Homo sapiens: one gene and its partners. The protein of the gene in region 6 purifies or fractionates together with the protein of the main gene of each other region. This does not show direct contact. Each region holds a gene or a part of one and is shown on either strand. Other genes may lie near its edges.

Region 1 (4,410 bases), on a different chromosome or scaffold from region 6:
TGGGTAGCTGGGACTACAGGTGCCCCCCCACCACGCCCCCCACCACACCCCCCACCATACCCGGCTAATGTTTTGTATTTTTAGTAGAGACGGGTTTCACTGTGTTAGCCAGGATGGTCTCGATCTCCTGACCTCGTGATCTGCCCACCTCGGCCTCCCAAAGTGCTGGGATTACAGGCATGAGCCACCGCGCCCAGCCAAACCAATCTTAGCTTTAAAGCTCTAGATCTGTGGCACCCTTTTCCCCTAACATGCACACTGGCCTCTGGCTGTTCCTTGAGCACACTAGGCACACTTCTGCCTCAGGGTCTATGCTCTTGTTTCCTCTTCCTGAGTTACTTTTCTCTTACAAAGCTGTGTAAGAGCATAGCCTGTCTGTCCCCTCATCTCCTTCAGGTCTTTACTCAAATTTCACTCTTTTTTTTTTTTGAGATGGAGTCTCGCTCTGTCACCCAGGCTGGAGTGCAGTGGCATGATCTCGGCTCACTGCAACCTCTACCTCCTGGGTTCAAGCGATTCTCCTGCCTCAGCCCCCTGAGTAGCTGGGATTACAGGTGCCTGCCACCATGCCTGGCTAATTTTTTTGTATTTTTAGTACACACAGGGTTTCACTATATGTTGGCCAGGCTGGTCTTCAACTCCTGACCCTAAGTGATCCACCCACCTCCACCTCCCAAAGTGTAATCCCAAAGTGTAGGGATTACAGGTGTGAGCCACTGCGCCTGGCCCAAATGTCACTCTTAACACTGATATTCCCTTGGCTATCTGGATGGCAAAGCCCCTCCTGCATACACATTTACATAACTCTCTATCCCCCTTTTCTGCTTTATTTTCTGCCTTAACCCTTATCAACCTATAACGTATTATATATTTTAATCTCCCCTAGTAGAAAGCTTCAGGGCCAGGCGCAGTGGCTCACACCTATAGTCCCAGCACTTTGGGAGGCCAAGGACGGGGCATCACCAGAGGTTAGAAGTTCGAGACCAGCCTGGCCAACATGGTGAAACCCCATCTCTACTAAAAATACAAAAATTAGCTGGGTGTGGTGGTACACGCCTGTAGTCCCAGCTACTTGGGAGGCTGAGGCAGGAGAGTGGCTTGAACCTGGGAGGCTGAGGTTGCAGTGAGCTGAGATCGTGCCACTGCACTCCAGCCTGGGCAACAGACTGAGACTTTGTCTCAAAAAAAAAAAAGCTTCAGGAGAGCAGGCATTTTTGTTTTATTTATTTTATTTTATTATTATTTATTTATTTTTTTTGAGACAGAACCTCTGTCTGTCGCCCAGGCTGGAGTGCAGTGGCACGATGTCAGCTCACTGCAACCTCCACCTCCCGGGTTCAAGTGATTGTCCTGCCTCAGCCTCCTGAGTAGCTAGGATTACAGGCACGCGCCACCACGTCCAACTAATTTTTGTATTTTTAGTAGAGATGGTGTTTCACCGTGTTGGTCAGGCTGGTCTTGAACTCCTGACCTGGTGATCCTCCTGCCTCGGCCTCCCAAAGTGCTGGGATTGTAGGCGTGAGCCTCTGTGCCCAGCCACATTTTTGTTTTATTAATTTCCGTATCCTCAGCACTTAGCACAGCACTTGATGTTCAGTAAAGTGCACAACAGATTTATTGACTGAGTAGGTAAGGAGGAGTTTTTTCCTTGAACTCTTTCCATGAATTTTTCATCGTGATTAGTTGTCCTTGGAAGGGTGGGATGGGTTTTCACTAGGAAAACCTGGTTTTCTAAGGTACTCATTGAGAGATGTTGAGATGTTTTTTCTGGGGATGTTTCTCTTTGGACAAACATCTCGTGCTTTGGGGCCATTGAATGAAAATACTCTGAGGGCAGAGAAGAGGATGGAGTGTGGAAGTCTTTGGTATTGGTAGTCTTATCTCAGATTTATTGTGGCTAGAATTTTTACCTACTTCATGCTCTTCCCTTGAGGTTTGTTCATGTCCCTTCCAAGACAAATATCACTCGTTACTTCTCTGACCCTACCTAGCTGAGCAGGCTGGTTCCACTTTGAGTTTTCAGTAGCCTGAAGATGTTAATATTTATAGTTCTGTCTTTATGGGCTAGTTCCTACCCTCAACCCCACCAATTCATGTAGAGACAGTTGAGCTTAAAAACTTTAAGAATAGGTTTCTCTAACAATGGTAGAATGTTCAGTTCTAGAGAACACTTGATCCTTTTTTCACAGATTGATTTTGGGGGGCATTTTTAGCAACTAAATCTATGCTAAGTTTGAGGATAAAAAGGAGCAGGCACCCTAAATTCTGTGGGTTATCCCTCATTTTATCTTTCCTTAATTAATTAATTAATTTATTTTTTTGAGATGGAGTCTCGCTCTGTCGCCCAAGCTGGAGTGCAATGGTGTGATCTTGGCTCACTGCAACCTCTGCCTCCTGGATTCAAGGGATTCTCCTACCTCAGCCTCCCAAGTAGCTGGGATTACAGGCATCGGCTACCACGCCTGGATAATTTTTGTATTTTTAGTAGATACAGGGTTCTGTCATGTTGGCCAGGCCACTCTCGAACTCCTAACCTCAGGTGATCTGCCCGCCTCGGCCTCCCGAAGTGCTGGGATTACAGGCATGAGCCACCGCGCCTGACCTATCTTTCCTTAGTTTCTTGGTTGGTACATTAGTTACCTCCATTGATCTTCCGGCTAGAGTAACCTGGATGAGATTTCTCTTTGGGGCGGTTTGGCTACTCTTCTTTAGCTCAGGAAGGCAAAGGGAGTGAAGTGTGCGTTTTTCGTTTTGAGAGAGTCTTGCTGTGTCTCCCAGGCTGGAGTGCAGTGTCCTGATTTCAGCTCACTACCACCTCCGCCTCCCAGGTTCAAGCGATTCTTCTGCCTCAACCTCCCAACTAGCTGGATTATAGCCACCCGCCATCATGCCCGGCTAATTTTTGTTTTTTTGTAGAGACAGGGTTTCACCATGTTGGCCAGGCTGGTCTTGGACTCCTGACCTCAGGTGATTCGCCTGCCTCGGCCTCCCAAAGTGCTGGGATTACAGTTGTGAGCTGCTACGCCCGGCCTGAAGTGTGCTTTTAACACTTTGTAGGAATGCTAGTGGCAAAGCTAAGGCTTTTGCTTAAACCTTTGCGAGGACATTGAAAGCTGCCAGGCCTAGGAGAGAACAGTTAATGGGAGGTGCAAGAATTGGGGATCTGCTATGCATTTGTCTGGACATAGTTCTGATATTATTAGTATAAAGAAATAACTGCATCTTCTAGAATTATATTAGTAGTTCTCATTTTGTGAATAATTTTTTTTTTTTTTTGAGACGGAGTTTCGCTCTTGTTGCCCAGGTTGGAGTGCAATGGCACGATCTCGGCTCACCGCAACTTCCACCTCCTGGGTTCAAGTGATTCTCCTGCCTCAGCCTCCCCAGTAGCTGGGATTACAGGCATGCGCCACCACACCTGGCTAATTTTGTATTTTTAGTAGAGGCAGGGTTTCTCCATGTTGGTCAGGCTGGTCTCGAACTCCCGAGCTCAGGTGATCCACCCACCTCAGCCTCCTGAAGTGCTGGGATTATAGGCGTGAGCCACCGCACCTGACTGAATAATTTCTTTTTATTTATTTATTTTTTTGAGACGGAGTCTCACTTTGTTGCCCAGGCTCATGTGACAAATTACAGTCAAAACTTTGTTTTACGTGCACCGTTATTAAAAATATTGTATAGGCTTGGCTTGGTGGTTCATACCTGTAGTGCAGCACTTTGGGAATCTGAGGCGGGAGGATTGCTTGAGCCCAGAAGTTTGCAGCTGCAGTGAGCTATGATTGTGCCACCATACTCTGGCCTGGGTGACAGAATGAGAGCCTGTCTCTTAAAAACCCCAAAAAGGCTAGGTTTTCAAAAAATACAGTTCATATTTTTGTTGGGCCTGTGTCTTTGTTGCGTATGACAATTGTAAGAATTTATGGTTTTTGTTTATGAGGAACAGTATGGGCATCAAGAAATCCTTGGTGTCTTGGAAAAGGGTGGGTCAGACTTGTGAAAGCTTACAGGATTAATAACAGAAGACTAGGAGGAAAGTAATTAAGGCAGTGACAATCCAAATTTAATGGTAGGTACATTTGAAATATATGGTCAGGTGTGGTGGCTCACGCCTGTAATTCCAGCACTTTGGGAGGCTGAGGCGGGTGGGTCACTTGAGGTCAGGAGTTCAAGACCAGCCTGGCTAACATAATGAAACCCCATCTCTGCTAAAAATACAAGACCTTAGCTGGGTGTTATGGTATCACATGCCTGTAATCCCAGCTACTCGGGAGGCTGAGGCACGAGAATTGCTTGAACCTGGAAGGCGGAAGTTGCAGTGATTGAGATCACGCCACTGTACTCCAGCCTGTAGCACTGTAGCAGGTGAATGTATACCCATGAGAAGTGTTCACTTACAGTTTCTTTGTTCCT
Region 2 (4,410 bases), on a different chromosome or scaffold from region 6:
AAAACCATTCCTAAGCCGTGAAATAGATTTCATTTGGGTTCTGGATTTATGTGACCATAAAGAATTCCTTTTATACAGAATTTACAGGTATAACAATAATTGTTTTGACAAATCAAGTCGATTTTTTCACCCCAAAATAGCACGAATAACTCTTTACTGCAATTATCTTATCTTTAGAATCATTCATTCCTTATGTGGTCTCTATGACTCATAGCTTTTTCACAGTAGCCAAGGCTCTAAACTGGCCCGTGTTAAAGGAAATGAAGGAAAAAGGTGCAATGTCACACATGAGGAAGGATCTTCAAAGTTCTCTCAGTAGGTTTAATTTTACTTATATTCAATTTCCTCCCTCCTCCCACCTACAGCCTCTTAGGTTTAATTTTGGACCCAAGTAGATAATCTTGACCTTTAATTCTACGGAGATTCAGAATTTAGTTATTATTATAGAATACCTTTTACACTGGCCCACTTCTAGGAAAAATTTGGTCAAACTGATTCATCTTCCCCCAAGGCAGACTTTAAAAAGGACTCTTGTTGTGTGTAGTTCTTCCCAATTCCTTTCCTTCATTACGAAAACTGAGTTGGCTAGGATTGTATTTATCCTCACTAGGAGCTCTAGAACAGAGGTGGTAGTACCCCTATTAGATTTCTCTCCTTTGTAAAAGACAGAAACCATAACCTCCCCTTACAACCAAGGCTGATCTAGACACCACAGTCCCTCAAGAGGAGGAAATCCATAGTACCACCTGCCTTATGCTAAGCTTCAGCCACCCACAAGAATTTCCTGACTTAGGAGTTAGTTGAAACCTTGTAAACCCTTTTCCCTATCTCTCTTGGGCGGCACAACAGGCCATCATAAAGCAATATGGTATAAAGGGAACAACACTGGACTATGGGTAACAAAAAGTAGGGATCTTGTCAAACATAAACTATATAAACGTTTCATCCATTTCCATGGAGCAACCAAAATGATCTTTTCAAAACATAATCATTTTATTTCACTTCTTTGCTTAAATTTCTCAATGGCTTCCTCAAGTACTTTAAATAAAATTCAAACTCTTTACCATAATCTATAAGGTCATTTATGTTCTCATCCCTGTTTTTTTCCAATCTCATCTCCTACTAGACCCTTTGCTCATTATGCTTCATTAACACTGGCCTTTTTTTTTTTTCTTTGAGACGGAGTCTTGCTCTGTCGCCCAGGCTGGAGTGCAGTGGCACTATCTCGGCTCACTGCAAGTTTGGCCTCCCAGGTTCACGCCATTCTCCTGCCTCAGCCTCCCGAGTAGCTGGGACCACAGGCGCCTGCCACCATGCCCAGCTAATTTTTTTGTATTTTTAGTAGAGACGAGGTTTCACCGTGTTAGCCAGGATGGTCTCCATCTCCTGACCTGTGATCCACCTGCCTCGGCCTCCCAAAGTGCTGGGATTACAGGCGTGAGCCATTGCGCCTGGCCAACACTGGCCTCTTTTATGTTCCTCAGACATGCTAAACTCTTTCCCATTTCAGACTGTGTACAGCTAGTCTCTCTATCCAAAATGATCTTTCCCCAGTTCTTCACATGGTTGGCTCAAGCTGCCTCCTTCTTATCTTTCAAAACAAATCAAATGTCACCTCATCAAAAAGATCTCCCAACCAACCTGTCTAAAAGTAGTCATGACTGCACATATATCCATTCACCCTTTCACTCACTAGTATATCACTGAGTTTCTTTCTTTCTTAGCACTCAAATCATCTTATTTAATAACAAAAATATTATTATCATTATAGCTAATACCTAGATATGCTTTCTCTGTACAGGCACTGGTTAACTTATTTAAACCTCACAACCATTAAACCTAATGTTTTTATATACAAAGAAATTGTGACACAAAAGGTCACACAGCTAGTATAAAGAGCTGAGGTTCATACCCAAGCATTCCAGCTACAGAGCTCACACTCTTAACTACTATGCTATACTCCCTTTCTGTTCATTTAATTCTTTATTGTTGGTCATATAAGCAACTGAAACTGAAATCTTATCCATCTGATGAACAAGTGTCTGATGTGTAGATAGCAGTCGATGATATTTATCACCTAACTCTGCCTGCATAGTAAGAACAGTGGGATTTTCTTTCTTTCTTTTTTTTTTTTAACACTCCTCTCAGCTCATACCTAAGGGATTTTCCACTTATATCTTTAGTAAGGTAACGAGTATTGCTGAATATCTAATAAATGGTCCTTCTTTGCTTGTCTAAATTCTTTAGATATAATTATTAACCCAGTCCTTTCTCCCTTTAAAAGTTACTCCAACTTACACTGCTGTCCCTGATTCTAATCATATATACATATATGATAGCAATATACTACTGAAATGGCATTAAGATGGAAAAAAAAGAATCTTCCAATATTACAAGAATCTCTGAGGTCCAAAAAATTTACAACATTCTACTCTTGTGTCTTGGGATTGGCTTGACTTCTAACTACAAGATAGCAAATTGCAGATACGGGATAACCACCATTGAGTACCCATAACTAGAAAATTGGGGAAATAAGCATATTTTTCTTTAGTAATTATGGATGGCAGAGCATCAAAACAGAAGGCAGGATAGGGTAGTGTGAAGAAACAGGCTTTAGAGTTAAACAAATCTAGAGTTACACTGCAACTTTACTATTTAACAGGAAGGAAGAACCCTGAAGAGTCTGAGAGTCTGTTTTCTTATCCAGAAAATAAGGAATGATAATTCTTACTTCAAGAAGTGTTGTGTACATTAAGTATGGTAAGTTAAATGACTGACACATAGTACAAGCCATCAAACCAAGTTCCAAGCATAATAACTTCCCCCCATTCCAAATAAGTACCTTAGTTATCCTACACTAAATTTTAGCTTAAGTTTAATTCAAAAAAACTTATTTAAGCACCAGGCAGTAATATCAATATGAATGACAACTAACATGTATTGAGTACTTATATGCTAGATACAGTTCTAAGCACTTCACCTGTTATAGCTCATTTAACTCTCACAATCTATACGATGTACAGTACCTCAGTTTTACAGATAGAAAAGTAATTGACATAAGGACATACAATCTAAGTAATTCACTGGAAAACATATTACATAGAAAATTATAAAGCCAGGATTAAATGCTAGGTGGTCTGATTCCAGGCCCCATGCTCTTATCACAAAGCTATATTTTTTCTTTGGCGGCAGACAGACAAGTAAGGCGTTTTCCCTTGCCTTCAGGGAGCTCTAGTTCTGTTTTATATGAATTTTATTAAGTCATTCCAAATCACCCCAACTTCAAATTTTATTTTGCTTTGCTTATTGCTACAGTCAACCAAGCACTAACAGAGGTTTCTTATTACATAATCAAGTCCCATAACCAAATTTTACATATACTTTCACCAAACAAGCAGTTTCCATGAATAGAAGAGGAAAAAAAAAGGTATCTAAAGTGTATGGGTAGATTCTAGGCAGAGTAAATAAAGCTCAGTAAAAGTTTCCCTACTCTGTGGTGGCAACAAAAGAACTATTTCTCCCTTCTGAAGGAATTATTAATGATTGTCCCTACTATCCCAATTATAAGTACGGCTATACATAGTTGTACTTGCAAGTCTTAAGGAGGAAATTCAACTAAATTTTAACTTTATAAAGTCCATTCTATAGAAACAGATTTACCTTTTACTTGTGTAAGATCAATCCCTTTCTCTACTGCCAACTTCTTTGCAAGAGGGCTAACAAACACCCTTCCCTTTGGTCCAGCAGGAGTAGCTGGGCAGGGTGCTGAAGGTGTAGGAGCTAAAGGCTGGGGAGTTGGAGGAACAGCGGCCACCTTTTGAAAAAAAATTACAAATTGTTTTAATTCACCACTTCAAAGACTGGTCTGAAAGATTAAAAGTTTACATCTTATTAATAAATTAAAACTATTTTAATTAAATATTAATAACTTTCATTTTTCCAAAGATCATAATGTACTTTTCGCCAGCTTAACCAACATAATGTAGTAATACGAACAGCGAGAACAATATACTTCTATATCAAAGACAGAACAGTTACCTTATTCCATAACAACATGAAGCACAGAATTGAATATTGCCAATCAGTGTATAGTATTCTACAGCCTTTCTTCACTTTAATCTCTTACCACTTCTTTATTCGCATTCTTTTACATCACCAACATGATTTTTATTTTTAATTATCCTAACTTCTTTTTTTTTTTTCTTTTTATTTGAGACAGAGTCTTGCTCTGTCACCCAGGCTGGAGTGCAGTGGCGCAAACTTGGCTCACTGCAACCTCCGCCTCCTGGGTTCAAGCAATTCTCCTGCCTCAGCCTCCCAAGTAGCTGGGATTAAAGGCACGCACCACCACGCCCAGCTAATTTTTTGTATTTTCAGTAGAGATGGGGTTTCACCATGTTGGCCAGGCTG
Region 3 (4,410 bases), on a different chromosome or scaffold from region 6:
CTGCAGAGCCAGCAGCCTCGGCTTCTTCTAAAGCCTTTTCCTACATTGTTTTTGTCATTTCTAGCCTTTTGTTTCTAAGTAAACTCTCCAGTGAAGTATGGGATACATATAAGAGGGCACAAATCATAAATGTATAGCTCAATTATTACAAAGTGCACATCCCACCAACAAGACGAGAACATGACCAGTACACCAGAGGTCCCCCCTTATGCCCTTCTCAGTCACCAACCCCACAGTAGTAACAACTATTCTAACTCTGTAACCATCGAAGTTAGAGCAGAAGCAACCATTGATAAATACCATGCCATGCCATCTTCTAAGGGCACTATGCACCCCTGTTATTAAGAGGAGCTCTTTGTTCTGTCTTTGGTGTGTGGTGCATTCATGAAAGTCTGCAGCACATCGGCAAAAAGTGGGTTTTTCCTGTGTTTGAACTTATATAAATGTAATCATATGGCATAAACTCTTGTGTTTTGTTTTCTTAAAGCCAACATTGTTTGTGAGATTCATCTGTGCTGTGTGTAGCGCTACTTCATCCTTGTGGTATATAGTATCCCATTGAATGAATATAGCACAATTTATCCATTCTATCATTATGAACATTTGGGTTATTTCTAGTTTGGAACTATTAAGACTAGTACTACTTTGAACATTTTTGTACACTTTGTACATGCCTTTTGGTATGCATATGTATGTATTAATATTTGTGTTGGGAAATACCAAACAGGAATTTTTGAGTCATAAGCTATACCACCTTCAGCTTTAAAAGATATCGTCGTGTAGTTTTCCAAAGTGATTGTACCATGTTACGCTTCTGCCAGTTGTGTGTGAGAGAGGTTTTTGCTCCGCATCCCTGCCATCACTTGATGTTGTCAGTCTTATCACTTTAGCCATTCTAACTGGGTGTATAGGAGCATCTTATTTAATTGGATTGAGTACCTTTTCATTTATTTCTTTAACTTTTTGCTTAGATTAATGTTATTACCTGATATGTAAAATAGAGGCTTTACAAGGCAGGTCTGGGTCACAGTCACTATTGCACATGCACATTGCTGTTGCCATACTCTTCTTTTGTGTTAATGAAGTCCAGGAGTCTCTTAACATTGGAGGAAGATGTTTTAAGACCTTCCTGAGTACCACCATAGTTTATAGTTTCTCCACATTAAATGAATTAAAGCATAACTGGAACTTGAAAGCTTATGTTAAAGTCCTTATTGAGAGTTATGTGAGAGAACTACAAAGCTGATTTCACAATTAGATACTGGGCAGTTAACTGGGCTCACCTTCCGGCTAAAATGACTTTGCTTCTGTATTCTCATCTGTCTGACTGTAAATTACTACATGTCATTATCTTTAGGTTCTCTTGTGAATAATCTAAACCTTCAGTGTTAAACCCTTGATATTAATAAGACTTCTTGAGCACTTATAACTGTTCCAGCCACTCTGCAGAGTGTTTTACATGCTTTGTCTCATTTAATTCTCTTAACTTTCATTGACAATTCCAGTCATCCAGACCTTCTTATTCTTTTTCCTGTACTTTACTGTTTTCTGTTTTCTTTTTCTGTCTGTCCAGCTTAGAAGCTATTGTCACTCCACTGTCTCTCCAGTGTCCCAGTTTTCTTGACCCTCTGTCCCTTTTTCATGTCCATCTGGCAAACTTGAGTATTGATGACTGATTACCTTCTTTGTGCAAGGCTCCAAGCACAGCTGGAAAATATCTCACTGGGCAACTTCTGCCAAGTAAGTGCTTGGCCACTAATTTCCACTAGACTATCAGTGCCCGTGAGCAATCTTTTTGTTTTACTATTTTCCTCCAATCTGAGTCCTTTCTCTAGATCCTCACTTTCAGCAGATCACCTTCTTTTGACACCATAGATAAATAGAAGTCATTAGTCTAGAACTGTCTACCTTTTCACTTTCTACCACCAGATCTATAAACCTATTTTGACACTTTCCCTTTTCTCTTCTTATCCTGCTACAATGGAGATGCTGCTGCTTTTTCTAAGGCCAGTACTTCTACCTAGGCTTTGGCTTCCTGGATGCTGGGCTTCTCAGAAGTATTATACTGTTGGTTATTCCATCTTTGTTGAGCATCTTTAACTTTTCTTCTTTGCTGGATTCTTGCTATTAGCACTTAAGCTTGTTTTAACCTCTCCAGCTTTTGAACCAAACAACCAGCAAACCCATTCTTAATCTCAACATACCCCTCTAAATACTTCTCTCCCCCCATTAAGATGAAAAGCTGAGTAAATTCACTACATTTTCTTTTGTTTTTTTTTTAATTTTATTATTATTATACTTTAAGTTTTAGGGTACATGTGCACAATGTGCAGGTTTGTTACATATGTATACATGTGCCATATTGGTGTGCTGCACCCATTAACTCGTCATTTAGTATTAGGTATATCTCCTAATGCTATCCCTCCCCCCTCCCCCCACCCCACAACAGTCCCCAAAGTGTGATGTTCCCCTTCCTGTGTCCGTGTGTTCTCATTGTTCAAGTCCCACCTATGAGTGAGAACATGCGGTTCACTACATTTTCTTACTTACTATTTATTTATTACTCTAGTTCAATTTGGCTTCCAAGTTCATTCATTGAAATGAATACTTATTGACAACCCACTGTATGCTAAACATTTTGCTAGATTCTGGGGTTGCAATGATAAGCAAACCCTGACAGTCCCAATCCTCTTGTGGTTTATAGGCTAGTAGAAAAGCAAGACATTAGTCAAGTAATCACACAAATAAATGTAATATTGCAACAGTGGTAGGTATTACACAGGAGAATAACATGGTACAACGAGGGCATATGGGTGGGTAATTTGACCATCAGGAAGTTTTCTCTAAGGAAATGGTCATTGAGAGCTGAAATAAGAGTAGGTGTTAACTAGGTAAAGAGAAAAGGGAAGAGTGACTCAAGTAGAGGGAACAACATATTCAGAGGCTCTGAGTTGGAGACCTACTTTATTATAGAATGGCAAGTTCGAGACTGATTAAAGGTCAGTGTAATTGGAGCACAGAACATAAGGCGGACGATGGTTCTAGATGAAACTGGCGAAGTAGCTAGAGACCTGCCCATGCATAGCTTCATAAGTCAAGTTAGGTGATTTGCCCTTATTCTAAAATCTGTGTATGCATGTTTGTGTGCATGTGCATGCATGTTTGTAGAGATGGTATGTTTTCTTCTTTAAAAAAGATGACTTGGCCTGGCACAATGGCTCACACATGTAATCCCAGCACTTTGGGAGGCTGAGACAGGTGGATCACCTGAGGTCAGGAGTTTGAGACCAGTCTGGCTAACATGGTGAAACTCCATCTTTACTAAAAATACAAAAAATTAGCCAGGCATAGTCGCACGTGCCTGTAGTCCAAGCTACTCAGAAGACTGAGGCAGGAGAATTGGTTGAACCCGGGAGGCAGAGGTTGTGGTGAGCCAAGATTGCACCATTGCACTCCAGCCTGGAGACAGAGTGAGACTCCGTCTCAAAAAAAAAAAAAAAAAAAAAAAAAAGACTTACTGCTTTGTGGTAAATGAATTAAAGAGTTTTCAGAGTGCTTGCTGGCAGACCAAATAGGAAGCTGTAGTGGTCCAGTGAGACATGATGGTCCTTTGGACTGAGGTGATGACAGTGGCAGCCATAAGCAACATCAATGAAGAAAAAGTGATAGATTAAAAAGATAATAAAATCAACAGGACTTGGTGATGATAACTGCCATATGTGGTTGTGATAACTAAATTAGGTAACCAAATTAAGATAACTTAAAATACGACCTGATAACAAGTAACATCTCAGTAAGTGTTAGCTATTTGTATTGTGATGCTGGTACATGATTGGATGTTGAGGGATTCAGCATAAGGTGTCACTTATGATCTCTAGGGTTCTGGAATGCATAACTAAATGGATGATGACACTATTCACTGAGAAAGGAGGTATTGGAAAAGGATCAAAGCATTGGGGAAAGGATTATAATTTGTGTTTTAGATGTGTTTAATTTGTGATATCATTGTGACACTGAAGTATATATGACAAATTGACAGGTCTGGAAAGTTGTGGGTTAGATGTATATATTTGTGAATTATCTGCATATAGAAGATAACTTCTTCATTGAAGCTGTGAAGAGTCAAGAGTCCAGAGTCCAGAATAAAGGATAGAAAATGGGCCTATGGAGGAGATAACAAAGGAATCACCAGAAGAATAGGAGAAAAATGAGAGTTTCGAAAATTGGGAAGAAATTGTTTCTCCTTCCCAGCAAGTCAGGATGGCCAAATGGTCTAAAGCACTGTATTCACAGGAGGACTGCAACTTTTGAAGCTGGTAAAAGATCAGAATAAGATTAAAACTAAAAATACTTATAGTAGGACATAGCAACACAGAGTGGTTTGTTGACTGTAGTAAGACTTATTTTGAT
Region 4 (4,410 bases), on a different chromosome or scaffold from region 6:
GAGCAATATGTGAGGATTCTAGTTTTTCCATATTTTTGTCAGTGCTTGTTGTTGTCCGTCTTTTTGATTATAGCCATCCTAGTCGGTGTGAGGTGGTATCTTGATTGGCATTTCCCTAATGACTAATTATGTTGAACATCTTTTCATGTGTTTATTAGCTGTCTATAGTATCTTCCTTGGAGGAATGTCTATTCAAGTCCTATGCCCATTTTTAAATCGGATTTTTTAAATTGTCGAGTTGTAAAATTTCTTTATATAGTCTGGATTCAAGTCCTTTATCAGATAGAGGATTTGCAGATACTTTCTCCCATTCTATTGGTTGTCTTCATTTTCTTGATTGTGCCTTCGAAGCACAAAAATTCTTAATTTTGATTACGTCCAATTTATTTTTTTCTTTGGTTGCTTGTGCTTTTTGTGTCATTTCTAAGAAACCATTGCTTAACCCACGGCTCACGAAGATTTACTCTTATGTTTTCTTCTAAGAATTTTGTAGTTTTAGCTCTTATATTTAAATCCATGAATCAATTTAATTTTTGAATATGGTGTGAGGTAGGAGTCCAACTTCATTCTTTTTCATATGCGTATCCAGTTGTCCCAGCACCATCTGTTGAAAAGACTATTCTTTCCCCGTTGAATTGTCTTGGCACCCATGTTGAAAAACTGACCATAAATGTAAGGGTTTGTTTTAGACTCTTTGTTCTATTATATTCTGTATCTTTTTAAATGGTACTTATGGCTCTGCTACTTACTAATTGTGTGACCTTCATGGTTGGTTAACTTTTGTCTCTCAGTTTTCTCGTTTGTAAAATGAGGAATAAATAGTAAGTACCTCATGGGGTTATTGTGAGGATTCAAGAAAATAATGTTTAAAGAGCTTAGAATAGCATCTGGCTTATAGTAAGCACACGGTATCTGTTAGCTGATGCCATCATTACCACCGTGGCTATCATCATCATTACCATCATAAAACTTAAATGTTATTTTCTAACTTGTATGTGACTTGTTTTCTTTGGCTGAAATTGTAAATGCTGAAATTAGATACCATGTTTAAGGAGTGAATGTTCTTGTTAAGAGAGAGTACAGAGTGCAAGGAAGATTGAGGGCAAACTCTTAAGAAATACTTGTATTTAGACATTTTTATTATAGTAGACAATGATTTTTTTTTAAAAAAAAGTACTTAAGGAAAATACTAGAGTCCTTGTTTTAGACTAATTGGGAGTAAGGGGGTCAGCTGGAAAGTCCTGTAATTATTTAGGTAGGTTAAAAGTGTCTGCAATAGTAGTCATGTATATGTATTGCTTTTTAAAAGTCATATATATGTATTGTAAAATCCTGGTGTTCGGGGACTATGGGTCTTTTTCTAATTTGGTGTAATGTGTAGTCTAGTGTGCTTAGCATTGCTGTTTAAACAGTGGCAAACTAATGTTGGCAATTTAAAAATTCTAGTTTAAAATCAATAATTATTAATTTGTTTATCAGCAATAGAAAAAAATCAATAATTAGCACCATTTAGCATTATGTGACAGATATATTAGAAGTGATATCATACCTCATTTGTTCTCTAAAGTTTAGCTACTTTTATTTTCAAGTAAGCCCATATGTACCTGGTAGTGATTTTGAGTGTTAGAGTGCTTAAAAAAGAACTCCAACTCTCTTTTGCCCTTTCTTCCCTTCACCTTACATTCATATTGTTAGCTTGTGACTGGGCTATTTTCTACTAATTGTAAATTTGTGTAACTGATGACAAAGCTTATGACGAATGTCTTAGTTCTCGGCTTTAGGCCATAATTTCTGCATTCCTAGAGTTCTTTTTTAATCAAATATATAAGTTATTGACTTGAGACCTCTTTTATTATAATTATCAGTACCAACATTTATTAGTTGTAAAATAAAAGAACTAAGTATTTTGATAGGCTGTTCCTTTCATCATGCTTAAATTTTTCTTCTGGCATTTTAAAATTTGTTTTTTTTTTCAGGTGTCTTCCCCCACTCTGGTGATGCTTATTGTTTTTTCTTGTATTTTAAAAATTTGATGTGATTATTATTCCTAGATGTCATTTGTCAGAGTGAACCGCTGTGGTCCCCGAGTTGGTGTAAGAAAGACACCGAAAGTAAAGAAGAAGAAAACTTCAGTGAAACAAGAATGGGATGTGAGTATAGGTGGGATAGTAAATAATGTAACATTACTCTGGAGAAATGGACACAGTGATATGGCCCTAGTCATGCAAGATGGTGTTCTGAATGGGGCTCATCACGTAATAGGGTGGAATAGGTTTCTGGGCATGTGATATTCTAGGTCTTGGAGGGAAAAGCAGAATCCTTTGGGGGAGGTTTTTAGAATACACACATCCAGGCTGTAACCTCTATATCCTCTGAAGAATTGGAATCCTAAGGGGATGGGGAGCATATTTTAAAAAACGTCTTTTCACTTTGACTCTGAGAACTCACTGCATAAAGGCAACTCTAGCTCACTGGTGTCAATGAAGTCTGTGAATTTTTCGGTACCTTTTTTAGGTTTGCTCAGAGCAACCAGTGATATCATAACCATGTGAGTGCCAGTTTTGGCTGAAAAAAATAGGTGACCTTTGCTCTCTTATCCCATGAATTGCTCAATTCCAGAGGTTGATCGGTTTCAGAACAAATGTTCTCTTGTGGTATAAGACAAGGCTGAAGTACCTGTAACATGTGATGTATGGCTCCTAACCTGAATATTGCCTGGTGTTACCAAGGGGATTTATATCTTTTTTTTAAGAGACAGGGTCATGTCCTGTCACCCAGGCTGGAGTGATGTGATGCCATCATAGCTCACTGCAGCCTTAAACTCCTGGACTCCAGCAATCCTCCTGCCTTAGCCTCCTGAGTAGCTAGGACCAGAGGCATGCACCACCACCCCTGGCTAACTTAAAAAAAATATTTTTTGTAGAGACAGGTCCTTGCTGTGTTGCCCAGGTTGGTCTTAAACTCCTAGCCTCAAGCGATCCTCGTGCCTTCGCTTCCCAAAGTGCTGGGATTATAGGCGAGCCATTGCACCCAGCTAGATTTCTCTTTTGTGACCTGATACTTTGGTTTGGACCATGAGACTTTAGGTGTCTTTACTTTCCATTGTGAAGAGTAACTAGTTAGGGATTAGTTTGGATCTCAGGGATTCTTTTGGACTTGGAATCTTCTTGTTTGCAACCTACCATGTTAGCCAGATATCCTGGGCAAACTGACAGCCTTTGAAGTGGGGCAGCGGGACTTCTCTGTGTTTAGATTGTTTTGTTGCTGTCTGATTGGCTATAAAATTTTAATAACAAGGATGTGACTCTAAGGTAAGGAAACTGATAAATCGGAAAAAAAAAATATGTGATAACATATTTTCCCCTTCAGAGTGGTTACTTTGAGAAGTTTAGTACAGTTGACCTTTGAACAACATGAGTTTGAGCTGCACGGGTTCATTTACGCATGAATTTTTTTTCAATAAATACAGTTGGCTGTATCCTGGGGTTCCACCTCTACAACGAAAGGTGGATTGAAAATACAGTGTTTTCAGGATGTAAAACCCAGATATGGAGAGCCAATTAGGTGGGATTTGAGTATGTGTGGATTTTGGTATATGTGGGTGTCCTGGATACTGTGGGATGACTGCATTTATTCCAATATGCCACTATTGCTTAAAACTTAATTGAAATCTATCATTTGAAATTGCATTAAGAACCTTCCTCATTTTATCTGCAGTGCTGGAAAAATCTTTTGTTTTTTGAAGGTAGACTGAACTTGGAAAATAGTCATAAGTCATTTGGAGTAAATGGTAAATGATGGAGAAGAGATCAAACTGATTATTACTGTCTTGATAAAAATAGTGAAACATTTTCTGAAATGGCTTGTAGATTAGATTTAAATGGAATGTCAAAAGAAAATGGTTTTAAGCAATGGTTTTAGTATTGATGGAATTATTATTTTCTTCCATGAGAACAAATTTCAAGCCTATCACTTACTTGTATGCCTGAGTTTTTAAATGCCTATTAAAAACAATTCTCATGATCCTGTAGTTGTACCTTGTACCTTTCTTTTCCTTTTCCCTTTTTTTTTTTTTTTTTTTTTTTGAGACAAGGTCTTGCTATGTTGCCCAGGCTGGCCTCAGACTCCTGGGCTCATGATGAGATCTTCCTGCCTCGGCCTCCTGAACCTCCTGGGTAGCTGAGACTACAAGCGCACACCACCATGCCTGGCTCTTGTACCTTTCTAAATCATTGTAAAAGTAATAACAGTTTTCATACAGAAAAGCCTTGAGCCAAATATAAATCATGGCCAAAAAGTTTAGTCTTTGATCAGAAGCCATTTTTGACTGTTCGTATTCCTCGTCACTTAGAAGTAAAACTAACTTGTTTTATTTCCTGCCTTACCAAATCTGTGTAGCAAAATGGCTGA
Region 5 (4,410 bases), on a different chromosome or scaffold from region 6:
TGGGGAAAAAAGAGCACTTGAAACTTCACATTATATACAAAATCCAATTTCAGTTGAATTGTGATCTACATGTGAAAAGTAACGTAAATGCTTTTAGAAGATAACACAGAAGAGTAACTTCATGACTCTGAGATAGGCAAAAATTCCTAACAGAAAATGAACAGTACCAACTACAAAGAAAAATACTGATAAATAGGAATTCATTAAAACTCAGAACTTCCGTTCATTTAAAAAAATCACCGAGAGAGTCCCAAAGGCAAGTCACAGAGTGTGAAAGCTATTTGAAACAATATATATCCTATAAAGGTCTGTATATCCAGAAATAAGAACTATACATCATTTTTTTAAATGGACACCAGATTGCAGTGGGTACTTTATCTCATGAATTACCAGATACCCAAACGGCTGATGAGTGAAAAGTACTCAACATCACTAATTTGCATTTTCCTACAAAGAGTACCACTACACACCCCAAGAATTGTTAAAATTTAAAACCTAACATTATTAAATAGTGGCAAGAATGTGGAGCAATGGGAATTCTCAGGACCGTTGGTGGAGGTGTAAATTTGTATAACCATTTGGAAAATTGTTTGGTAGTAGCTGCTAAAGCTTCTAACTTAGGAATTCTACTTTTAGGTCTATACAACAAAAAATGTACATACATTCACTATAAGACACTAATAAGAATGTTCATAGCACCATAATTTGTAATAGCCCCGAACTGGAAGCAACGCAAATGCCCACCAACAGTAAAATGAATTCTGGTATATTTATACAATAGAATATTATATGCTGCAATAATAAATAAGTGGTTGTTTCACATAGCAATATAATATTACAGACATTAATATTGGGGGTGGGTCAGATACTAAAGAATACATAATATTTATCATTCCATGTTAGTCAATGTCCAACGAACGTTTAGTTCAACACTAATAGGTTCCTACTAGCTTTAATATGAAAGCCTGACTAGTCTGAAGAATTTTTTCAGATATTCTATTGTCTAAATAAAGTATTTTTAGCTTAAATTTTAAAAAATATTTCAGATAAATGAAAGGCTGACAGGGACTTTATAAGTCTTACATCTATCTGTTTGATGCTATGGATAATTAAGAGTTTAAATTTTACCTAAAAGATCCTCCTTGGTATTCTTCAGGCAACAATTTTCCATCTCTTGCTTTCTTTGATAGAGCCTGAGAAAAATACAAACAGAATAGGACAACCAACAAAATGTTATACAGTTGATCTTGTCACTTGAAATATTTGTACATCATATACTCTCATCTCTGATATGCCTTGATTTGATTTTGTTACCTATATAAAAATAATTTTCTCTAATTATAAGAACAAACAAGAGCACAGATAATTCAAGAAACTAAAGCTGTTAATCAAAACTCTAGAAAAATCACTTCCTTTAACAATTTTTCAAATGTGGGAATTACCCTGTGTACCATCAATTATTATGCAAAATGCTTTAGAGTTTCCTATATGCAAAATGAAATTTTCTATTTTGCCTATAAAACTTTATGGTAAGAAAAAAAATACAAGAATCCATTCTGGTCAATCTAGTGTTTTTTAGTTTTTTTTTTTTTTTTTTTTTTGAGAAGTCTCACTCTGTTGCCCTGGCTGGAGTGCAGTGGTGTGATTATGGCCTATTGCAACCTCCATCTCCCAGGTTCAAGCAATTCTCTTGCCTCAGCGTCCTGAGTAGCTGAGATTTCAGGCACCCACCGCCACGCCCAGCTAATTTTTTATATTTTTAGTAGAGATGGGGTTTCACCATGTTGGTCAGGCTGGTCTCCAACTCCTGAACTCAAGTGATCCACCCACCTCGGCCTCCCAAAGTGGTGGGATTACAGGTATGAGCCACCATGCCTGGCCAATCTGTGTGTTTTAAATAAATTATCCAATGGCAACCAAAGTAGTATACCCACAATCCCACAACCAACATTCCGTTTTTATCTTTCAGAGTTTGCTTCATCTTTATCCACAATCTCAACCCCACACAATGGTTATAAAAAATAAATTTTATATTTAATTGTTCAATATTATATGTATCTTCTGTGTTGTCAGCCTTCAGAAATGATTTTTTAATGTTTGTTCCTAAAGACTGCACCTGCCTAATTTACTTGGTTATTTCCCAGTGTTATAATTTGGTTCACGGTTTCTTCTGAATTATTTCAGGTAAATTTTCAGAAGTGGAATTATAGTGCCCTAGAGAATAGACTTCTTTTGGTTCTTGATCCTATAGCTAAATCATTTCCTGAATGAGCTAGTCCAATTTACACTGCCACAAGGAATATAAGGATGTACTTGATTCATATCACTCTTGACCACAGCGATTTCTAAAAATCTTACAGAAGACAAGACAGATGACATATTAGTTAAATTTTCCTCTCACTTGTACTTGGAATTAACCACATTTCTGTTAATTTTTATTTTTCAGTGCTTAAAAGCAAGGGAACAGAGGTTGAGTCATCATATATAAAAAATTAATAACGAATTAACTTAAGAGGAAGGGTACAGAAAAATGAGGTCACTGTCATTTGGGTAGATAAAATAAATGTGGAATTTACTTAATATTTTGTATTACATAGGCAACATAGGCACTATTACAATCACAGTTGATAACTAACTTTAATTCATAGATGATTTAATTTTTTAAAATTGAAAGTCTTTAAAAATATCAAAAATCTAAAAACACATTACTGTAACGTACTGCCAACAGAAACAATTACAGGTGTATGCTATTTGGATGTGGTTATTTATAAAACTATTTGGATTCAAGGTAAAAAATGAGATGAATTTTGACTTATACAGTTCTTGGAATAACGGGAGAGAGAATAATCTATAAAAGCATTTTTCCTCCCTTAAGCAATGTAATTGTTCACATGATTTGAAAAGACACATATATGAACTTTAAAAGGCATTTTTTAAAGGCAGATGATCTCAACATATCCTGATGAACTACCACACAATTACCACAAATGAAAAAAACTCACTTTAATAAGTAGATTGCACGCACACATACTAAAAACAAAAACTCTGTAGATCCTAAATACATCAACAGGAAATTCCTGTCAGTGAACTCTAGTAAGTCTGAAATAGGTATGGAATCTGAGAAGGATCGTTGGTTTTATAAATTTGTAATCATCACTGGGATCTCCTGGCAATGTGGACTCAAAATCAAAGTACATGTTACCTGAAGCATCCAGCTGAAAGAATAAAAAATGACCACTAAATATTTCTACAATACATCGAATGCCTTGCTATTCATTAAAAAAATTTACTGGGTACTTATAAGGTAAACTATGCCTCTGCCTTTTAATACTGTTATAAGTAATGAAGAATTAAGAATAACACAGGATCCAAGGTGTGTCACTACATTACTTTATTCAAGGAATACCAACTTGAACTTGGCTGGGGTATGCCTACAGCCCCCACAGTGGCATCCTTGGGATTACAGAGGGTCAAGAAGTAAATGCGTAGTACAGATATTCTTAACTTGGGGTTCATGGATGAATCTGCAGAGAGCCACAAACTCTTGAAAAATTAATTTCAATGAAACAAGTTTTACTGAAATTTGTTTTAAAATAAATTCACCAAGCAACTACTGTATCCCAAGCACTCTTCTAGAATTAGATAAATGGCAATGGACAGTGAACATCAGACAGTAGGGAACACAGAAGGGTGAACAAATAAATAAACAAGGTAATTTCAAAGACTAATAAACCATATGAAGACAATAAAACAGGGTAATGAGATAAAGAGTGTTAGGAAACTATTTCAGCTACAGAAGCTGCAGAAGGCCTAAGAAATTAGCAACTGAACTGAGAAACCAATGATGAAAAAAAGCCAGCCAAGTGACGATCAGAGGGAAGTGTGTACTGGATAGTATGTCTCTTAGTGAGAATCCAGAGCTCAACCTGTCCATGATCCCACAGTCTTTTCAAAAAGACTACTCCTGCCTCACCAGGTAGAGAGCCTTGGTTTCTTTGCTGCAGGTTCTCTTATCCACTGCCTACTTGCTAAGACCACAACCTCACATTCCTCGGGGAATCTTCACTGCTTCTTTGGCAGAGTACTCTCCCGTTTGACTCAGGTCTCTTCTTTCTTAACCCTTTTTTTCTCCCAGTTGCATACAGTAGTCCCCCCTTATCTGCAGGGGATACTTCAAAGACCCACAGTAGGTGCCTGAAATGGCAGATAGTACTGAACTCTATACATGCAGTCATGTGCCGCATAAGGACACTTAAGACAAAGACATAAATATATGACAGTGGTCCCATAAGATTAAAATGGAGCTGAAAAATTCCTATCACACAAATACGTACCATTGTATCACTATTTCCTTATACTATTCAGTACAGTAATAGGCTGTACTGCAGGTTTGTACCATACAAAGCCTAG
Region 6 (4,410 bases):
TTTTTTTTTTTGAGATGGAGTCTTGCTCTGTTGCCTTGGCTGGAGTGCAGTGGTGCTCTCGGCTCACTGCAACCTTTAACCCCGGGTTCAAGCAATTCTCCTGCCTCAGCCTCCTAAGTAGCTGGGATTACAGGCATGCGCCACCATGCCCAGCTAATTTTTGTATTTTTAGTAGAGACAGGGTCTTGCCATGTTGGCCAGGCTGGTCTCGAACTCTTGACCTCAAGTGATCTGCCTGTCTCAGCCTCCCAAAGTGCTGGGATTACAGGCGTAAGCCACCGAGCCTGGCACATGATGGATACTTTTTTTTTTTTTTTTTTAGACAGAGTCTAGCTCTGTCGCCCAGGCTGGAGTGCAGTGGCCCAATCTCGGCTCACTGCAAGCTCCACCTTCTGGGTTCACGCCATTCTCCTGCCTCAGCCTCCCTAGTAGCTGGAACTACAGGCACCCGCCACCATGCCCGGCTAATTTTTTGTGTTTTTAGTAGAGATGGGGTTTCACTGTGTTAGCCAGGATGGTCTCTAGCCAGGATGGTCTCGATCACCTGACCTCGTGATCTGCCCGCCTCAGTCTCCCAAAGTGCTGGGATTACAGGCGTGAGCCACTGCGCCCAGCCCCATGATGGATACTTTTTAAAAGCTAGTGAGGCCTGACTTATTCCCTGTCCCGCCATCAATGAGACTCCTCACAGATGGTGTGGAGGGAAGCCGCCTCCCTTCGGCCTCCCTTTCCTGAGAGAATCTTGGTGGCTCTGCATCCCCAGTGGCCCTGGACACGCTCTCCCTCTGCGGTCTGTCTATCTGTCTGTCTCCCCTGGTTGGTCGGCTGGGCTCACAGTGAGCCCACCTGGACAAACATGCTGGGCCCCTTCCAGCCCCTCAAGAATCTCATCCTCCCCTGAGGAGGGACTGCTGTGCTCAGGGACGAGACAGAGCCGCCGGGGCTGGGGTTCCCTGAAGAGGCCTTGCTGCGGGAGGGATGGGGCCGAGCAGCTGCTTGTCTCTGTCACCTCTTCTCTCTGTCCTGTTCCCCGTTAACCAAGAAGCACGAACCTCACACAGAGCTCACCCATGTCAGGCAGCTTTCTGGCATCTTCCATGTCCTCATGTATTTAATCTTCAAGCACCCCACTGAGGCAGGTGCTGAGAATCTCCCGTTTTACACGTGGGGAAGCTGAGGCACAGGAAAGGAAAGCGATTTGCCCAGGTTCACCTGCAGTCAAGGGCATGGGCACACTTACACCCCAGACAGCCTGGACCCATGCTGGGACGCGAGAAGAGGGCTGGCAGCCCTGTGAGGCAGGCGGGCAGGAGGCAGGCAGGCCTCCTCCCCAGCTGCCCCAGCACCCGTGTGCCCCCAGAGGGGACGGCTCAGAGTCAGGAGGCTGGTGAGCAGGGCCCAGAGGCGCCTCCTGAGGCGCCATTCATCTTGGCCCCCCTGGCTGTCAGGAACCCCGACTTGCTCTTGATGCAGTGTCTGAGCCTGGGAGGGTCTCGCTCCAGAACAGGTGAGTGGGCTTCTCTAGGCCTCCTGTTGGACACTAGGAGGTGATGGTCATGGTTTCCTCTTCTCTCCTCTAGCTCAGTTTGCCCAGCTGGCCCAGCTGAGCCCCCAGGAGCGTCTGAGCCGGGAGACGGCCCTCCAGCAGAAGCAGGTGTCTCTGGAGGCCTGGTTGCAGCGTGAGGCACAGACACTGCAGCAGTACCGCGTGGTGAGTGGGGTCCTGGGCCTCTCCTGGGCGTGGGTGCCATGAAGTCAGTCTCTGGGGACCCGAGGGAGGGCTGGGACCAGCATGAGAGCAGAACCTGGGAGGGCAGGAGGCCTTTTTTCCTGGGGGCCTTGCGAGGCAGAGCAGCTTGGGGAGAGGGAACGGCCTGGGCCCTGCCCTGCCATTTCCCAGCGAGGCCCTGCGGTGTTCTCTGGGAGCCCAGAAGGGGCTGCTCTCCTCCCTTCCCTCAGGAGCTGGCCGAGAAGCACCAGAAGACCCTGCAGCTGCTGCGGAAGCAGCAGACCATCATCCTGGATGACGAGCTGATCCAGTGGAAGCGGCGGCAGCAGCTGGCCGGGAACGGCGGGCCCCCCGAGGGCAGCCTGGACGTGCTACAGTCCTGGTAATGGTGTGGGGCGGCCAGCGGGCAGGGCAGGAGGGGCTGGTGGGGACCCCGGCTGCTTCTGCGTCCTGTGCTGGCTCCTGCAGCAGGCCCCCTCCATCCTGGGACAGCTCTTGTTTCTCCAGGGAGCCTGGTTCCTCAATCAGACTTTGGTCCCCATCCTGTGCACCTCCCCCAGGAAGGGGGCTGCTGTCCTGGGGGTGGGATGGGGCTCGGGTGTGTGGGGTGATGCTTGGGCTGTTTGGGCCTAGTCAGGGTCGCCCCTCCTGTGTACGTCTCTAATTCTGGGAGGCAGGGAGCTCTGCTCTTCCCATGGGTGGGAAGTGTGGCGAAAGCACAGAGCCTTCCTGGGGGAACGGGAGCTGTGTCTTGGGGCCTGGCGTCTGTGAGGAGAAGCCATTGTCCTCCTGTTGGCCTTGGGGCTCTCGTGCAGGTGTGAGAAGTTGGCCGAGATCATCTGGCAGAACCGGCAGCAGATCCGCAGGGCTGAGCACCTCTGCCAGCAGCTGCCCATCCCCGGCCCAGTGGAGGAGATGCTGGCCGAGGTCAACGCCACCATCACGGACATTATCTCAGCCCTGGTGACCAGGTGACTGCTGCCTGTTTGCCATGCCCAGGAGCTTGGGGCAGCTCCTGCCTGCGTGGGGGGAGCTGCAGGTGCCTTCCAGACCAGCAGATCCACTTCCTGCCTCTCATCCCTCCCAACTCCATCTCCAGTTGCTGTGGCTGCTAGGTGCCGCCCTTGCCCAGTTTCTCCTGTGGACACTGCAAGAGATACCCTGGGCCGCAGCCCATGCCAGCTGCTGTGTTATCTCACTCCCCTCTCCATCCTCTCCCTGGACTCTCACAGCTTCCCCGGGAACAGAGGTTGTGCCCGAGCTCATCACCTCCTGAGCCCCATGGGAGGCAGCCCCACCCCCACCACAGAGGGACTGAGAGCCCTTTCCCCTGCGCCAACCCCTCATCGTGTGTCTGTCCCTGTGTCCCATGCAGCACATTCATCATTGAGAAGCAGCCTCCTCAGGTCCTGAAGACCCAGACCAAGTTTGCAGCCACCGTACGCCTGCTGGTGGGCGGGAAGCTGAACGTGCACATGAATCCCCCCCAGGTGAAGGCCACCATCATCAGTGAGCAGCAGGCCAAGTCTCTGCTTAAAAATGAGAACACCCGCAAGTAATTGTGCCTCTCCCTTCCCCTGCCCAAGCTTAGGTGTGGGGGACCTGCACCCCCCGCTTTGTCCTTGCATCCAGCTATGTCTTGTCCCCTAGTTCACCGTGTTGCCCAGGCTGGTCTCGAACTCCTGGACTCATGCAGTCTTCCCACCTCAGCCTCCCAAAGTGCTGAGTTGATAGGCGTGAGCCACCACACCCAGCCGAGTATCCGTTCTTTACCCTGGGGATGGTGTGGCTGCCGGAGAGCTGAGGCTCACTGCCACTGCCCAGCATTGTGAGAGACTATCACACCACTTTCTCCTGAAAGTGTATTGCTTCACACCATTGTAAATTCAAACAATCATGTCAAACCATCATTAAATCTGGGACAGATGGTACACTGCCTTCCTCCTACTCAGATGCCTTCCCTGTCCCTGCAACAAGCTTGGTGCTAGGCTAGATGCCGTGGCTTACCCCTGTAATCCCAGCACTTTGGGAGGCCACGGTCGGAGGATCACTTGAGCCCAAAAGTTTGAGTTGGACAATATAGGGAGACCCTCATCGCTACAAAAAGTTTTAAAATTAGCTGGGCATGGTGGTGCACGCACTTGTAGTCCCAGCTACTCGGGAAGCTGAGGTGGTAGGATCATTTGAGCCTAGGAATTTGATACTACAGTGAGGTATGATTGTGCCATGGCACTCTACCCTGGGCAACAGGGTGAGACCCTGTCTCCAAAAAAATCACACAAAGTATGGTGTTGTAGCTGTGTTCTAGAACCTGTGCTACGCACTGAGGACAAAACTGTGATCCCAACAGAACTGGGCTGTCTTCTCGCCCAGCCCCTTGAGCAGCAGAGCAGGCAGCAGATGCTGGGAAATGCCTGATGGTGTAGCCATGTGGCAGGGGGATGTGTAGGGCACCGAGAAAGGGGGTCTTCTTGCAGGATTAAAGAAATGACAGTCTTAGGCTCCTGGTGGAATTGGAGGTAGCTAGTGATAGGGAGGGAAGTAGCAGAGAGGGAGGACTTTCAGGCAGAGCCCATGTGCCACATCCTGAGGGAAGAGTACAGAGACATTATGTGTAGCAGAGAGTGGAGAAGTAGTGTCCAGTGTCAGGGCAGGCCACCCACAGCGTATGCAGGGGATGA
Region 7 (4,547 bases), on a different chromosome or scaffold from region 6:
AGTGGCAATCTCTGGGTTTTGGGAACACAGAGGTTTCTCCTTCTTTTTTGGCTTACTTATGTTTTCTTTCTTCTTCTTCTTCTTCTTCTTTTTTTTTTTTTTTTTTGAGATGGAGTCTAGCTCTATCGCCCAGGCTGGAGTGCAGTGGTACTATCTTGGCTCACTGCAACCTCTGTCTCCTGGGTTCAAGCAATTCTCCTGCTTCAGCCTCTCAAGTAGCTGGAATTACAGGCGTGTGCCACCACACCCGGCTAATTTTTGTATTTTTAGTAGAGACAGAGTTTCACCATATTGGCCTGGCTGGTCTCCAACTCCTGACTTCAAGTGATCCACCCACCTCGGCCTCTCAAAGTGCTGGGGTTACTGGCGTGAGCCACTGCGCCCAGCCAATGTTTTCTTATTTTTTATAATGCACATATACTGCTTTTTTGTTAATACAGGATTATTTTAAGTTAAATGAAGCAGAACCCCACTGTTGCTAGTAGAGTTGAAGCTTAAGGGTACATAGTCAGAAGAAAACTACAGATTATTTTCCTTATTACCATAAAACAGTGAAACTTGTTCTGTGATTGATAACTTTTCCTTTATAATGTTAACATTTTTTATTGTGATAAGCTATACATAACATAGAACTTACCACCTTTTTCTTATTTGAGACACGGTCTTATTCTGTCCCCCAGGCTGGTGTGCAGTGGTGCGAATCATAGCTCACTACAGCCTGGAAGTCCTGGGCTCAAGTGATCCTCCCGCCTCAGCTTCCTGAGTAGCTAGGACTACAGACCCACACCACCACACACGGCTAATTTTACCTTTTTAAATTTTTTGCTGAGACAGAGGTCTCACTATGTTGCCTAGGCTGGTCTTGAACTCCTGGCTTCAAGAGATCATCCAGCCTCAGCCTCCCAAAGTGTTGGGATTACAGGCGTGAGCCACCACACCCAGCCCAGAACTTACCATCTTAACCATTGCTACATGTACAGTTCAGTGGCATTGAGTACATTCACGCTGTTGTGCAAGCATCACCACCATCCATCTCCAGAAGTTTTTCATCTTTCCACCTGAAACTTTGTACCCATGAAACAATGCCTCCCCATTCCATCTTCGTCGCTAGCCCCTGGCAACCTCCCTTCCACTTTGTGTCTCTGCATTTGACTACTCTAGGTACTTCACATAAGTGGAATCATAGTATTTGTCCTTTTATGTCTGGTTTATTTCACTTAGCATAATGACTTCAAGATTCACCCATGTTGCAGCACATATCAGAATGTCCTTCCTTTTTAAGGCCAAATAATATTCCATTGGATGGATAGATCACCTTTTATCTTGATTGATCATTTTAACTTATTTTTCAGTTTCAACCTACAACGTTTATGAGGACAAACTGCAAACTTAATTGCTTTTTAAATAAAATTGATGGCAGGCCAAATCCCTGCTTGCTGTTGTGAATACCTCTACACTGCAAGAATTCCTGGAACAGTGAGTGGGACACCTTTATTCAGACAAATCAGATACTTTGTAATGGAAATCAAGGTGGTATATTACTGTTTTGCTTTGTATTTTGAAGCATCCCTGGGTTCACTGCTGGGATTGCTCCAATCATCGGCTTCAGGCGTGGTCTTGTAATGGCGCCATGCGGACTTATTAAAAACTGGAAGTCTCTCAAATGACTCACTTGAAAGAGCCTATTGGAGAAACAAAAATATACACCAAAGGTCGACAGTGTCATTTTTCTCAAGTGAAATAGTAACCCAAATTTTATTATTTAAAACATCAGAAACCTTAATACATATTTTCAAAATGATATTAAAATTACACCTTAGTAGTTTACTTAGACTGGCCAGGAAAACATTAAAGCTTTTTTAAAGGAATGAAAACATTTGCTCATTCAAAATCAGAACTGAAATACACATGACCAGAACAAAACATATTTTAATTCAGCTCATACTGCTTTGAGATGCTCAACTGTTTTGACTATACCTGGTGACTGGTCTCACAAAGGGCCCAGGAAGAGATACAGTCTCATGCATCCCAGGTTTATAAACACACACCATCAAGTATATTAAATATCGCATTACTTAGATGCATGGGCATCTAAGATAAATACTCCCAGTAACTGGTTAAATTCTGGTATCACATACATAGGTTGAGTATCCCTTTGAAATGCCTGGGAACAGGCCGGGCACAGTGGCTCACACCTGTAATCCCAGCACTTTGGGAGGCTGAGGCAGGTGGATCACCTGAGGTCAGGAGTTCGAGACCAGCCTGGCCAACATGGTGAAACCCTGTCTCTACTAAAAATACAAAAAATTAGCCGGGTGTGGTGGCTCACACCTGTAATCCCAGCTACTCAGGAGGCTGAGGCAGGAGCATGGCTTGAACCCAGGAGGCAGAGGTTGCAGTGAGCCGAGATGGCAGTACTGCACTCCAGCCTGGGTGACAGAGTGAGACTCTATCTCAAAAAAAAAAAAAAAGAAAAAGAAAGAAACAAAAAAAAAGAAAAGAAAGAAAGAAATGCTTGGGACCAGAAGTAGTTCTGATTTTTTCCGATTTTGGAATATTTGCATTGTGCTTACCTGTTAAGCATCCCTAATCTGAAAATCTGAAATCTGGGGTGCTCCAATAAGCATTTCCTTTAAGCTTGACCTTTGAGCAAGCATCACGTTGGCGCTCAAAAAGTTCCAGATTTTCAACCATTTTGGATTGCAGATTCTTGGGTTAGGGATGCTTGACCCACAGTGGCATGTTATGCCACTGTTTAAAAGAATGAGCCAGTTCTACATAAATGGATCTGGAAAGATCTCTAAGACAGATTGCAAAGTAAAAAAAATAAGAAGGTGCTGAAATTTCATTTATGTGGGAAAAATTCTATTTTTCCCATATTTATAAATGTAGAATCAACTCTAGGAGGATCCATAAGACGCTGAGACCGGTGGTGATCTTCGCTGAACAGAACTGGCGGTTTAGGGCCAGTGGGAGGAGAGACTTCATTTTTCCTTTTGTAGCTTTTAAATTTTTATTATGTGCCTATATTACCTATTCAAAAAAATGTTACAAATATTCTAGAGTTTAGAAATAAAAGCCCAATGATCACCAATGAATAAGAAAAACTGTGTTACAGAGAAGTTTGTTATTAAATGAATCTTTTACATAACCATATTATGATTACTGAATTCTTGTAGCTTTGGGAAAGCCAGTGAGTTTTTAAAACAAAAGACCAAAATACTTCAGTTTATGAAAATCTGCCTTCTTTTAGATCAGACCTTTCAATAGGCATGTAGTTTTTTAAGTCACAATTTAAAATTATGGTTTTAAAAATCAGTATTTTAATTTTTTTTTTTCTCTTTTGAGATGGAGTCTCATTCTGTCGCCCAGGCTGGAGTGCAGTGGCACCATCTTGGCTCACTGCAACCTCTGCCTCCCGGGTTCAAATGACTCTCCTGCCTCAGCCTCCTGAGTAGCTGGGACTACAGGCGTGCACCACCACATCAGCTAATTTTTTGTACTTTTAGTAGACATGGGGTTTCACCATGTTGGCCAGGCTGGTCTCGAACTCCTGACCTCAGGTGATCCACCCACCTCAGCCTCCCAAAGTCCTGAGATTACAGGCATGTGCCACCACGCCCGGCCAAAATCAGTATTTTAATTTCTATACCTCCACGTTTCATATTTTGCTTTATCTGAGCATAGAATCAAGCGTGAGGCATAACATGGTTTTCATGGGAAAATGAAGTAAATCTGAGATGAATCTAAGAGATGATACAGTGCTGTTCTCAATCAGCGATTAGAACTTACAGCTTTAAAAAGCAAAGATGCCTCATACTAACAAATAAAACGCAGTACCTTCAAATAAATGACAGCATCAGTACCCACTCCTTCCATGGAATACAGTTTCAGATCTCCTTGAAAATATCTAGCATACAGACGGGAAATTGGCAAACCATAACCAAATCCAGCCTATTGAGAAAAGAAAATTAATACAGTGAGACAGGCACAAATGCTAACACATTTTATATGATGACCATTCAGAGAAGGTTAAAATAAATTCTTGATTCAGATTTAAATCAAATAAATTACTGACTCAACCTTTACAATGATGTATATCCTCTTCTATGGCAAACAACCCCTTTATTTTCACCCTGCAAAAACATGTCTTATATGTTTGGATAATAATAGAAATATTCTAATTTTTGACTAATGCTTTTTTAGCATTTTAAAGCAAAATTTTATCATTTTTTTAAAAGCACATTCCAAGGCCGGGCACAGTGGCTCACGCCTGTAATCCCAGCACTTTGGGAGGCTGAGGCAGGTGGATCACTTGAGGTCAGGAATTCATGATCAGCCTGGCCAACATGGCGAAACCCCATCTCTACTACAAAAATTAGCTGGGCGAGGTGGTGGGAGACTGTAGTCCCAGCTACTCAGGAGGCTGAGGCAGGAGAATCGCCTGAACCCAGGAGGTGGAGGTTGCAGTGAGCTGAGATGGCGCCACTGCACTCCAGCCTGGGCGACAGAGCAAGACTCCATCTCCACACACACACACACACACA

The links.
Region 1: the proteins of STAT5A (region 6) and R3HDM2 purify together in Homo sapiens (affinity purification with mass spectrometry, with the first as the bait; one large-scale study listed by BioGRID). This does not show direct contact.
Region 2: the proteins of STAT5A (region 6) and DLAT purify together in Homo sapiens (affinity purification with mass spectrometry; 2 studies listed by BioGRID and IntAct, with this or other methods). This does not show direct contact.
Region 3: the proteins of STAT5A (region 6) and KLHL7 purify together in Homo sapiens (affinity purification with mass spectrometry; 2 studies listed by BioGRID and IntAct, with this or other methods). This does not show direct contact.
Region 4: the proteins of STAT5A (region 6) and SPICE1 purify together in Homo sapiens (affinity purification with mass spectrometry; one large-scale study listed by BioGRID and IntAct). This does not show direct contact.
Region 5: the proteins of STAT5A (region 6) and PDHX purify together in Homo sapiens (affinity purification with mass spectrometry; 2 studies listed by BioGRID and IntAct, with this or other methods). This does not show direct contact.
Region 7: the proteins of STAT5A (region 6) and PDK3 purify together in Homo sapiens (affinity purification with mass spectrometry; 2 studies listed by BioGRID and IntAct, with this or other methods). This does not show direct contact.

The regions. Positions count from the first base shown.
Region 1 is NC_000012.12:57,424,139-57,428,548, reverse strand, and holds part of R3HDM2 (R3H domain-containing protein 2), read left to right. Parts: intron 1-4,410.
Region 2 is NC_000011.10:112,038,648-112,043,057, reverse strand, and holds part of DLAT (dihydrolipoyllysine-residue acetyltransferase component of pyruvate dehydrogenase complex, mitochondrial isoform 2 precursor), read right to left. Parts: intron 3,815-4,410; coding exon 3,661-3,814; intron 1-3,660.
Region 3 is NC_000007.14:23,108,336-23,112,745, forward strand, and holds part of KLHL7 (kelch-like protein 7), read left to right. Parts: intron 1-4,410. UniProt on the Homo sapiens protein: Substrate-specific adapter of a BCR (BTB-CUL3-RBX1) E3 ubiquitin ligase complex. The BCR(KLHL7) complex acts by mediating ubiquitination and subsequent degradation of substrate proteins. Probably mediates 'Lys-48'-linked ubiquitination.
Region 4 is NC_000003.12:113,504,247-113,508,656, reverse strand, and holds part of SPICE1 (spindle and centriole-associated protein 1), read left to right. Parts: intron 1-2,051; coding exon 2,052-2,150; intron 2,151-4,410.
Region 5 is NC_000011.10:34,989,098-34,993,507, reverse strand, and holds part of PDHX (pyruvate dehydrogenase protein X component, mitochondrial isoform 1 precursor), read right to left. Parts: intron 1,194-4,410; coding exon 1,129-1,193; intron 1-1,128.
Region 6 is NC_000017.11:42,298,171-42,302,580, forward strand, and holds part of STAT5A (signal transducer and activator of transcription 5A), read left to right. Parts: intron 1-1,580; coding exon 1,581-1,711; intron 1,712-1,959; coding exon 1,960-2,111; intron 2,112-2,544; coding exon 2,545-2,700; intron 2,701-3,104; coding exon 3,105-3,284; intron 3,285-4,410. UniProt on the Homo sapiens protein: Carries out a dual function: signal transduction and activation of transcription. Mediates cellular responses to the cytokine KITLG/SCF and other growth factors. Mediates cellular responses to ERBB4.
Region 7 is NC_000023.11:24,531,064-24,535,610, reverse strand, and holds the end of PDK3 (pyruvate dehydrogenase kinase, isozyme 3 isoform 2 precursor), read right to left. Parts: intron 3,955-4,547; coding exon 3,841-3,954; intron 1,683-3,840; coding exon 1,539-1,682; 3' UTR 1,189-1,538; downstream 1-1,188. UniProt on the Homo sapiens protein: Inhibits pyruvate dehydrogenase activity by phosphorylation of the E1 subunit PDHA1, and thereby regulates glucose metabolism and aerobic respiration. Can also phosphorylate PDHA2.